Homo sapiens: one gene and its partners. The protein of the gene in region 3 purifies or fractionates together with the protein of the main gene of each other region. This does not show direct contact. Each region holds a gene or a part of one and is shown on either strand. Other genes may lie near its edges. The genes, in order: NUP85, NUP133 and SPAST.

Region 1 (3,752 bases), on a different chromosome or scaffold from region 3:
TTCTGTAATATCAGCGTGAGATGGACTAAGATAGCAGGTCTGAGGGAAGAAGGGTAAGGAAGGAACAGGCCACTCTAGAAACGCAAGGTGGTGATATTTGTACACCTAAAAATGGTTACAGTGGGGGGTGGGAGAGATCCTACCTGCACTCTTTGATTACTTGATGGATGTCAAACTCAAAGGCTGCCAACAAGATGTTGTCCAGGGGTTCTGGGCTGCTCTCACCTCCCAGAAACAGGTCCAGGCTGGACTGTGGAAAGGTGATGAGACACTCAATCCTGAGGACGGAAGCAGAGACTCGGGGCAGGCAGGGCTGCTGTATAACGAACCCCAGAGAAGGTGCCTTGTTCTTTCACTAAGGGCCAAAGGAAAGGGTCTTCCTGTTCCTCAGGGAGGAATTCAAAGAGAATGACCCATCAGGGCGCCCCCAGGACTCCTACCCCCACCCTTGCCCACCCCGAGCTCACTCACCTGGGCATAGTAGTGCAGATCAATGGGTTTTACTGTGGGATTGGAGTACAAGAGCCGAGTCACTAGGAAATGATACCAATTACTCAGAAGTTCCTTCTGCTCTAACAAGGCAGCTTCGTCTCCCAGCATAATCTGAGGAGAGACATTTGTGCTGAACTCTGTCCTCCTCTCAGGGGTACCTTCTCCATAATGCTCCTGCTCTCAGCTAAGGGCACCGGATTTCAACTAGTCTGAAAGCTCTCGCCATCACGGCAGAGCGACAGACAGCCCTATCCAAGGAGGACCAAGCTCCTGCCACTGCTGCACTGGATGCCACAGCCCCCATAGGAAGCCAACATGGATGCAATCTGAACTGCTTCCCAGACCTTCAAGAGAGACTCCAGGTGAGGGCTGGTGGCGAATGTGCTGTCCTGGAGGTACCGCTCACATTCCTCGTGCCAGTGCTGCCACTTCAGCTCCAGCTCTGTCAGTGTCTGGGTGTTCCCGGGCTAAGGGAGAGACCAGCCATGAGACGTCATCCCATCCACACCCTTTATATTTAGTGAATCACGCATCTCCTGTGACCCAGCAGAGCAAAGCTACCCCCACGTACACTAAGAATGGGCATTGTCCTCATCAGGTCCCCCATGATTCGGCATATGCCTGCAGAGGCGGGGCTGGCATCGGCTTCCTTGGAGAGCATCTGTCGGGCCTCATCCAGCCGGCCCTGCAGCACCAAGATGGTCACCTGGGAGGAGATCCGGGCCCATAAGCATTGGCAGGAGGCCTGGCCCTGCCGAGGCGTGAGGAGGCCAGTCCCCTCACCCCACACTTTGGCTTTTTAACTCTTCACACACAGGCTTCTTTCTGCACCTGAGTCTGCCCTGGGAAGAATGATGGCTCTTTCCCTCCAGAAGTAATCTATCACATCCAATCTCATGGCTTTGTCACCTCCACTATGTTTTTCAAACAGCCAGCTGTAGTCCATTATAGCCTGTGACCACCTTTTTTTTTTTTTTTTCCAGAGTTCCCCTCTTGTTGCCCAGGCTGGAGTGCAATGGCATAATCTCGGCTCACTGCAACCTCCACTTCCCGGGTTCAAGCGATTCTCCTGTCTCAACCTCCCGAGTAGCTGAGATTACAGGCGCATGCCATCACGCCCAGCTAATTTTTGTGTTTTTAGTAAAGATGGGGTTTCACCATATTGGCCAGGCTGGTCTCGAACTCCTGACCTCAAGTGATTCCCCGCCTCGGCCTCCCAAAGTGTTGGGATTACAGGCGTGAGCCACCACGCTCAGCCCCAGCTTTTCAAAAATGAAAGAAACAGAAAAACATGTTCCTCTACCTGCTTCCCCCCACCCCTTCTCCACCATCATGGTGTGTGCTGTTGATTATTTCTCCCACCATCTTCTCACAAAATGTCCAGGATCATGCAATTCCTGGCCAAGAAACAAAAGCAAAATCGTCCCATTCACCAGTGGATTCAGATTAAAACTGGTAATACAGGGCTGGGCGTGGTGGCTCACAGCTGTAATCCCAGCACTTTGGGAGGCCAAGACGGGCAGATCACAAAGTCAGAAGATCGAGACCATCCTGGTTAACATGGTGAAACCCCATCTCTACTAAAAATACAAAAAATTAGCCAGGCGTGGTGGCAGGCGCCTGTAGTCCCAGCTACTTGGGAGGCTAAGGCAGGAGAATCGCTTGAATCTGGGCGGCGGAGGTTGCAGTGAGCTGAGATTGTGCCACTGCACTCCAGCCTGGATGACAGAGTGAGACTCCATCTCAAAAAAACAAAACAAAACAAAATAAAACAAAATTGCTAATACAGTTAGCTACAACCCCAAGAGGAGGGACTGGAGAAGAACCAAGCTGGGTCTGCCAGGAATTACACATGAGATGAGTCTACACGTAAGACTATCATCTTATCACATCAAGCTGAAACTGTCACCACTATCTGGAAAGGTGGACATACTTTGTTGAGAAAATGGTTTTTCTCTGATTATAAGCTCTACAATAGTAGGTTGGTTCAATAATAAATATGTGAGAAGTTTTGTTTGGAAAAAAATTAAAATGAAATAATATAAAATATCAGAATGCATTAAATAAAATGGTTCATAAAAGTTTCAGTTCAAATATAAATATGTAAAATAAATACACTCAGGCCAGGCGTGGTGGCTCACGTCTGTAATTCCAGCACTTTGGGAGGCCGAGACGGGTGGATCACCTGAGGTCAGGAGTTCAAGACCAGCCTGGTCAACATGGTGAAACCCTGTTTCTACTAAAAATACAAAAATTAGCCGGGCGTGATGGTGCATGCCTGTAGTCCCAGCTACTCGGGAGGCTGAGGAACAAGAATCATTTGAACCCGGGAGGCAGAGGTTGCAGTGAGCCAAGATCACGCCACTGCACCCCAGCCTGGGTGACAGAGTGAGACTCCATCTCAAAAATAACATAACATAACATAAAATATACACTCAATGCAAATAGTCTTCACTGTTCAGTCTTTATCTGTGAATCTGCCTACTCACTAAAATTTATCTGTAACCCCCAAATCAGTATTTGTGGTACTTTCAAATCAAAATTAAGAGTGGCAAGAATATTGAGTTGCTTGACACACACTAAACAAGGCTTTCTCGTGATGCAGTTAGTGCCACATTTTTTTCATTTTTGTACATTTTCTTGGGTCCCCACGTGTAGTACTGAAGTGCTTTCTAGTGTTGCTAAGTGCAAGAACTATGGGAGGTGTTAGATAAGCTTCATTCAGACACGAATTATAGTGCTGTTGGCCCTGAGTTTTTTTTTTTTTTTTTTTTTTGAGACAGAGTCTTGCTGTCGCCCAGGCTGGAGTGCAGTGGCGCGATCTCGGCTCACTGCAAGCTCCACTTCCCAGGTTCACGCCATTCTCCTGCCTCAGCCTCCCGAGTAGCTGGGACTACAGGCGCCTGCCACCATGCCTGGCTAATTTTTTGTATTTTTAGTAGAGACGGGGTTTCACTGTGTTAGCCAGGATGGTCTTGATCTCCTGACTTCATGATCCGCCCGCCTCGGCCTCCCAAAGTGCTGGGATTACAGGCGTGAGCCACTGCGCCTGGCTGACTTCACTGTTAATGATTCAACAATATTATGTCAAGTAAGTTGTCTCCAAACAGATACACACATAAAACAAGTGATCGGTTATATATTGATTGGTTGAACAAAATATGACCAGAGGCTTGCAGGAACCTAACCCTGTATTTCCCCTAGGAGCAATGGTTCAATATTCACTAATTCAGTATTCAAGGCACTGCACTCCAGCCTGG
Region 2 (3,752 bases), on a different chromosome or scaffold from region 3:
TAAATTTATTTTAGAGATATATGGTCTCACAGTGTTGCCTAGGCTGGTCTTGAACTCTTGGGCTCAAATGATCCTCCTATCTCAGCTTCCCAAAGTGTTGGGATTACAGGTGTGAGCCATCGTGTCTGGAGGTAAAACTTTTTTAAAAATGTTTTTCCTCTGGACAAAAGCAAGTAAGCTTTAAATAACTGAGTACATCAGGGATTGGCAAACCTTTTCTGTAAAGGGCCAAAAGTAACTGTTTTAGGCTTTGGCGGCCATGTAGTCTTTACTGCAACTACTCTATTTCACCAATGGTATCATGAAACATCCCTAGAAAATACATAAATAAATGCGTATGGTTGCCTTCGAACAAAACTTCATTTATAAAAACTGGTTTGAGATCAGTTTCACTGGAGGGCTGTACTTTGCCAATCCCTGGATCAGATGGTTGTTTTGATCTTTTTTTAAAGTCAGATTTATTGAGCTATAATTTATATAGAGTAAAACTTACCCTCTTTAGTTTATAATTCCACAAGTTGTTTTTTTTTTCTTTTTTTTTTTAAGATGGGGTGTCACTCTATCGCCCAGGCTGGAGTGCAGTGGTGCGATCTCAGCTCACTGCAACCTCCACCTCCCGGGTTCAAGAGTTCTTCTGCCTCAGCCTCCCAAGTAGCTGGGACAACAGGCATGTGCCACCATGCCTGACTAATTTTTATAGAGATGGTTTTGCCACGTTGGCCAGGCTGGTCTTGAACTCCTGATCTGAGGTTATGTGCCCACCTTGGCCTCCCAAAGTGCTGGGATTACAGACGTGAGCCACCGCACCTGGCCCTAATTCTACAAATTTTGACAGATACACAATTTAGTCATTTAACCGTAACAATCAATACAGAACAGTTTTATAACCCCCCAAATTCCCTTGTGCTTTCTGTAATCGACCCCTCCATCCTCTAGCCCCTGGAGATCACTGATGTGGTTTCTGTCCCTATATTTTGCCTTTTGCTTAATGTCATAGAAATGGAACATACAGTGTAAAGCCTTTTGAGTCTGGTTTCTGTCACTTAGCATAATACACTTCAAATTCATTCAGTATTTTTTTTTTTTTTTTTTACTACTGAATAGTGTTCTTTTGTATGGATATACCACAGTTTGTTTATCTATTCAGCACTTGGAAGACATTGGGTTGTTTTCAGTTTTAGGCAATTATGAATAAAGCCACTACAGTCATTTGTACACAGGTTTTTGTGTGAACACAGTTATTGGTTTTCTGTTTCTGTTTTTAAATTTTCTCTTGGATAGGTGTCCACGAATGGGATTGCTAAGTTATATGGAAGCATATGTTTAATTTTATAGGAAACTCCTAAGTTGTTTTTTAGAGAGGCTTTACATCTTCCTTTTTTATTGATTAGTGATGGGCTGGTGATTTTGGCAGCAGCATGGCACTCAGCAGACAATCCATGTCTCATCTATTACTCTCTGATAACAATAGAAGATAATGGTTGCCAAATGTCAGATGCAGTTACTGTAGAAGTCACTCAATATAATCCACCTTTTCAGGTAAGATTTATATTGGTTAAATTACAAAGCAATAATATGTTGAGTATTTTTCTAACCATTTCAGGGTCTTATTTATTTATTGAAAGAGTTTTGCTCTGTCACCCAGGCTGGAGTGCAGTGGCTTGATCTCAGCTCACTGCAACCTCTGTCTCCCCTTCCAGGTTCAAGTGGTTCTCCTGCCTCAGCCTCCCGAGTGGCTGGGACTGTAGGCATGTGCCACCATGCCCAGCTAATTTTTATATTTTTAGCAGAGACAGGGTTTCACCATGTTGGCCAGGCTGGTCTCAAACTCCTGACCTCAAGTGATTCCCCCAGCTTGGCCTCCCAAAATATTGGGATTACAGGTGTGAGCCACCTTGCGTGGCCCATTTCAGGGTCAAATTTCGTGACAGATTTCATCTGCAGGGCTTGGAAATATTTTAAAATAGCTTGTTTCTAGACATTGTTGCATTTTCTTTGCCATCTCAGGCTTGTTCTTTTGCTTAGTTTTGACTAAAGAAAAATGAGAATGGAAGCAACTAGCAGAAAGCAGTTTGTTTCTTCTGCTCTAGATCTTTGGAGGGATTGTCATGTCTGTATTTAGGTAGAAAGAAGGTATTGATTAATTCCAGGGTGAAAGTAAGGAAGAAACCAAGCTGGGCATGATGAGTACATGCCTCTAGTCCCAGCTACTCAACAGGCCGAGGCAGGAAGATCACTTGAGCCCAGGAGTTTGAGGCTGTTGTGTACCATATTCACACCTGTGAATAACCACTGCATTCCAGCTTAGGCAACATAATGAGACTCCATCCTAAAAAAAGAAGAAAAAGAAAAAGGAAGGAAGAAAACTGGTAGGAATTAGGGTTTGGTTTAGAGCCTTGTATACTATAGAAAAATCCTCCTTTTTACCCAAAGGAAGATTATATTTGTATTCAGCAGTGTTCTGTAGTCATCAAAGTTCTTGTAAATGACTGGAAGACAGGCTTTCCAATTTTAAGTTCATTAATAGCAATTAAACATGTTTAATAACTGGTATTCATGAGGAAGAACCTGAACATCTATAAATTCATTTTATTTACTCTTACATAGTATCTAATTCTGTTAAATCCTTGTTTGTTTATTTTTTGAAGAGATAAAGTCTTGCTGTGTTGCTTGGACTGGAGTGCAGTGATATTCACAGGTCCATCAGAGTGCACGGTAGCCTCCAACTCCTGGTCTCAAGCAGTCCTCTCAGGTAGCTGGGATTACAGGTGTGCACCACCGTTCCTGGCTTAAATTCTTACTTTTTTTTTTTTTTTGATCCTTACTCTTAACATGACTTGTTTAATTGAATCCTGTAAGAAAATCTTTTGATTTGTTCTTTTATGCCAAACAGAAATAAACTTTATCATGTGTTCTGATTATGCAGTGTGGAAAACATGCTCAGTGTTAGAAAAAATTTCAGCCAGGGCAGAAGACTATAAAGAGAATTTGAGGATTAAAAAACAATTCTAGGACCTCGCATTTAATATTTCTGTAAAATTACTTCTTTAATAACAGCTTATCATTTTTAGCATATTCTAATTTTATTTAATGAGATTTATTTTTATTTCTCCCTCTGATTTTATATGTAAACAAATCAACTAAGTTTTCTTGTCATTAATATCTTGGCAGTAAGGTAAGAACAAAAATGTTTGTTTATCAGGGAATATTTATAAAAAATTGCCAATTCTTAATATAACGAATTTTAGTGCTTTCATTTTCTCCTTTGAATTTATCATAGGCTTCTAGTTATAGTCATCATCATGGAAATGTTTTCCAAATTTGTTAATTTTGGAAATTAACAATTTAGGCCAGGTGCGGTGGCTCACGCCTGTAATCCCAGCACTTTGGGAGGCTGAGGTGGGTGGATCACCTGAGGTCAGGAGTTCAAGACCAGCCTGGCCAACATGGTGAAACCCCATCTCTACTAAAGATACAAAAAAATTAGCCGGGCATGGTAGCATGCACCTGTAATCCCAGCTACTTAGGAGGCTGAGGCAGGAGAATTGTTTGAGCCTGGGAAGCAGAGGTTGCAGAGAGCCAAGATTGCACCACTACCCTCCAGCCTGGGCAACAGAGTGGGACTCTGTCTCAAAAAAAAAAAAAAAAAAAAAAATTAAAAAAGCAAATTATAAGCAAGTCAACAAAATATATGTCTAATTGATGTTTATAAACTTACTCTGTCATGTTTTGTTAATCATCTCATGGGTAGT
Region 3 (3,752 bases):
TCTCTGGATAAAATCCTCTATAACTGACTTAATGCCAAATATAGTTCTCTAGTGAATACAGTTTTACCTTCAGGTAAATAAATATACAATTTATGGATTTTTATACCCTTTTTCCTATTTTTAAAGCTTGAATTCTGTGAACTTTAAGGTTAACTTATTTATGAAAAGTGTAAATGTTAGGTTGTATTTTCATATTAAAATTTTGTATCCTTTAAGGGTACTCCGAAAACAAATAGGACAAATAAACCTTCTACCCCTACAACTGCTACTCGTAAGAAAAAAGACTTGAAGAATTTTAGGAATGTGGACAGCAACCTTGCTAACCTTATAATGAATGAAATTGTGGACAAGTAAGTTTTGCCATCTAAATGTTTTATTTTATAGTTTTTATATTTTAATTTTACTTATAAAACATGTCAGGAGTGAAATAGATAATAAATACCTTGTCTGGTTTACATACTTAATTTTTATGATAGTTTTCAATTATAAATGTAGAAAACCATTGCTTTACTGATTTAACTATAGTTTAACAGTTAACATTAAAAATAACTATATGTCATAGGGCTTAGGCTTCATCTTGTAATAACTGGGCCCTGTTTGTATCGTAGAACTAACTGAGGTCTTGTTTCTTAGTGGAACAGCTGTTAAATTTGATGATATAGCTGGTCAAGACTTGGCAAAACAAGCATTGCAAGAAATTGTTATTCTTCCTTCTCTGAGGCCTGAGGTAAGAACTTTATATTATCATTTTTCTATAATACCATCTGTTACTGAATCCATAGTAGTAGTAGTAGTAAAGAAATATTTGAGCTATACTAAAATAATTAATTCATATAAGGTAACAATAGATTTAATGTTTTAAAAAAGATAAAACATTAACAATTGATGTTGAGAAGTTATTATAGAATAGGAAAATGGATATGAGTTCCTAATTTCCAATCCTTTTATATTTTTAGGAAAAGTGGGTAGTATGATATAATTTTGTTTTGTTTTGGAGACGGAGTCTCACTCATTGTGTCGCCCAGGCTGGAGTGCAGTGGCATGATCTTAGCTCACTGCAACCTCTGCGTCCCAGAATTCAAGTGATTCTCCTGCCTCAGCCTCCCAAGTAGCTGGGATTACAGGCATGTGCCACTATGCCCAGCTAATTTTTGTAATTTTAGTAGAGATGGGGTTTTGCTATATTGGCCAGGCTGGTCTTTCATACCTGATGTCAAGTTATCCACCCATTTCGGCCTCCCAGAGTGTTAGGATTACAAGTGTGAGTCACTACATCTGGCCAAATTTTGATATCAAGGTGAGAGAGATTTAAAATTAAGATAAGGTACAAAAATTAGCCTAGTGTGGGGGCGCACGCTTGTAGTCCCAACTACTGGGGAGGCTGTGGCAGGAGAATTGCTTGAACCAGGAGGCAGAGGTTGCAGTGAGCCAAGATGGCACCACTGCACTCCATCCTGGGTGACAGAGCGAGATGTCATCTCAAAAACAAAACAGGCCGGGTACGGTAGTTCACGCCTGTAATCCCAGCACTTTGGGAGGCTGAGGCGGGCAGATCACGAGGTCAAGAGATTGAGACCATCCTGGCTAATATGGTGAAACCCTGTCTTTACTAAAATTACAAAAATTAGCTGGGCTTGGTGGTGTGTAACCCCAGCTACTCGGGATGCTGAGGCAGGAGAATCGCTTGAACCCGGGAGGCGGAGGTTGCAGTGAGCCGAGATCACGCCACTGCACTCCAGCCTGGCGACAGAGCGAGACTCCGTCTCAAAAAAATAAATAAAAATTTAAAAAGATAAATACATAAAAATAAATAAATAATATTAAGAGAAGGAAATCAGGCAGGTAGTGGCCCCTGACACAATGAGTTTTCCCAGAATTGGATTGCTTGGAAATGCCGCTCAAAGAGTGTGGTAAACTCCATCGAAGGCTAAATACCAACGTGACAGTGATAATAAACAAGTACTTTATGGGAAAGTTTTTTTTTTAATTATTTTTAAAAAGAGAGAAATTGTACTGGAGAAAAGAGGAATTCAGGTAGAATAATTCTTTTTTTTTTTTTTTTTGAGATGGAATTTTGCTCCTGTTACCCAGGCTGGAGTGCAGTGGCTTGATGTTGGCTCACTGCAACCTCTGCCTTTGGGGTTCAAGTGATTCTCATGCCTCATCCTCCTGAGTAGCTGGGTCTATAGGCATGCACCCCAACACCTGGCTAATTTTTGTGTTTTTAGTAGAGATAGGGTTTTACCATTTTGGCCAGGCTGGTCTCAAACTCCTGGCTTCAGATGATCCGCCCACCTTGGCTTCCCAAAGTGCTGGGATTACAGGCAGAGGCCACTGTGCCTGGCATGAAGAACAATTTTTAAAAGAATGACTTTTAAGGATATTAAGTCATCAAAGTAGATAGAGCCATTAAATGATGGGTAGAAACCTAATCTTCCATCCCATATTTTATGACTTATTAAGGAAGATAGGCAATCTTGCAGTTGATAATAAATATTTGGCTTTCCATACTTAGCACCGTTTTGAATTTTTCCAGTTCACAGATGGTATATTTAGTGCTGTTCCAATAATATTGCAAAAAATAAATCTGAAGACTCACTTCTGGGTCACAGTTATTTCACTATTAACATTAAAATCTTACGGACCTACCTGCAACATGTAGTGGAAATAAGTTGTGTGGCACGTTGTGGTGGGTGCATTATTAAATAAATGTGCAAAGGTTTTATGGCTGTCTCAATTTTTCCATAGTCTTGAGTCATTCACATACTGCCTTTATGGTGTTTATCACTTGTAAGTGAGTACCAACTGTACTAGAACTTACTGAATATTTTTCAAGTCTATTTTACTTATTACTCATTCTAAGTACATAAAATCACTGGTCTGATATGCAAGTTAGGTTTTCGCTAATACCCAGTAAAATAATTAGATAATTATTAAAATAGAAAGCATTTGTCATTATGTGAACTGGATTTATGTCATGTACCACCTCAGGTCACACTTTGGGAAACGTAGCTTACGTATTGAGCTAACATTTTGCTGGAGTTATATAAGATTAGTAAATGCTATAGACTAAATATTGAAAAAAAAGCTTGCTTAAAGAGGATTTACATAATTGTAGACCTGAAAAGGATCTTAGCAGTCTTCTGATCGATTCATTGATAAAGAAACTAGTCCTAAGAGCTAAAATGACTTGCTCAAGATTTTAGTTAAGTGGTAGACCTAGGAAATACCTTTCTAAGATTAGAGCTGCCTGGTTAGTGCTATAGCTGCCACCTAATTCTTACATTTATTTATTAAGGGACATGCTTTTTACGGTAGAAAAATATATCTAAAATTGTGAAGGTAATACCAAGGAAATATTTAGGCTATGCAAGAAAAGTCATTCAGCTTTTGCTTTACCCAGGCCTATAGAGAACATATCTAAAATAATAAGTAACATGTGAATTTGAATTTAGGCATATTTTCATGGTAGTGACATAATGTGCAATTAAGAAGCTATAATAATGTAAAAATGCCAGTTGCAAGTTATTTCAAATAAAGTTGAATAACCTGACCTCAGGAGGGGCAGAAACCTTAGTAAACTTAGCAAACTGAGACCTAAGGAAGAGCAAGATCTGTGGTAGAGCCAGGTCTAAAGGTTTATATCCTGGTACAAACTTGTCTATACATCACCACACCTGCCAAATGGAACTTTTTTTCCTTGTAGTTCAGATTTCCAAGAAAGGGAATATTATTGTCCTAGCTCAGCGTTT

What was found.
Region 1: the proteins of SPAST (region 3) and NUP85 purify together in Homo sapiens (affinity purification with mass spectrometry; 4 studies listed by BioGRID and IntAct, with this or other methods). This does not show direct contact.
Region 2: the proteins of SPAST (region 3) and NUP133 purify together in Homo sapiens (affinity purification with mass spectrometry; 4 studies listed by BioGRID and IntAct, with this or other methods). This does not show direct contact.

Annotation. Positions count from the first base shown.
Region 1 is NC_000017.11:75,222,549-75,226,300, reverse strand, and holds part of NUP85 (nuclear pore complex protein Nup85), read right to left. Parts: intron 1,199-3,752; coding exon 1,064-1,198; intron 960-1,063; coding exon 837-959; intron 604-836; coding exon 472-603; intron 279-471; coding exon of another isoform or gene 251-278; coding exon 144-250; exon of another isoform or gene 143-143; intron 1-142. UniProt on the Homo sapiens protein: Essential component of the nuclear pore complex (NPC) that seems to be required for NPC assembly and maintenance. As part of the NPC Nup107-160 subcomplex plays a role in RNA export and in tethering NUP96/Nup98 and NUP153 to the nucleus.
Region 2 is NC_000001.11:229,487,742-229,491,493, reverse strand, and holds part of NUP133 (nuclear pore complex protein Nup133), read left to right. Parts: intron 1-1,391; coding exon 1,392-1,539; intron 1,540-3,752. UniProt on the Homo sapiens protein: Involved in poly(A)+ RNA transport. Involved in nephrogenesis.
Region 3 is NC_000002.12:32,115,486-32,119,237, forward strand, and holds part of SPAST (spastin), read left to right. Parts: intron 1-216; coding exon 217-350; intron 351-633; coding exon 634-727; intron 728-3,752. UniProt on the Homo sapiens protein: ATP-dependent microtubule severing protein that specifically recognizes and cuts microtubules that are polyglutamylated.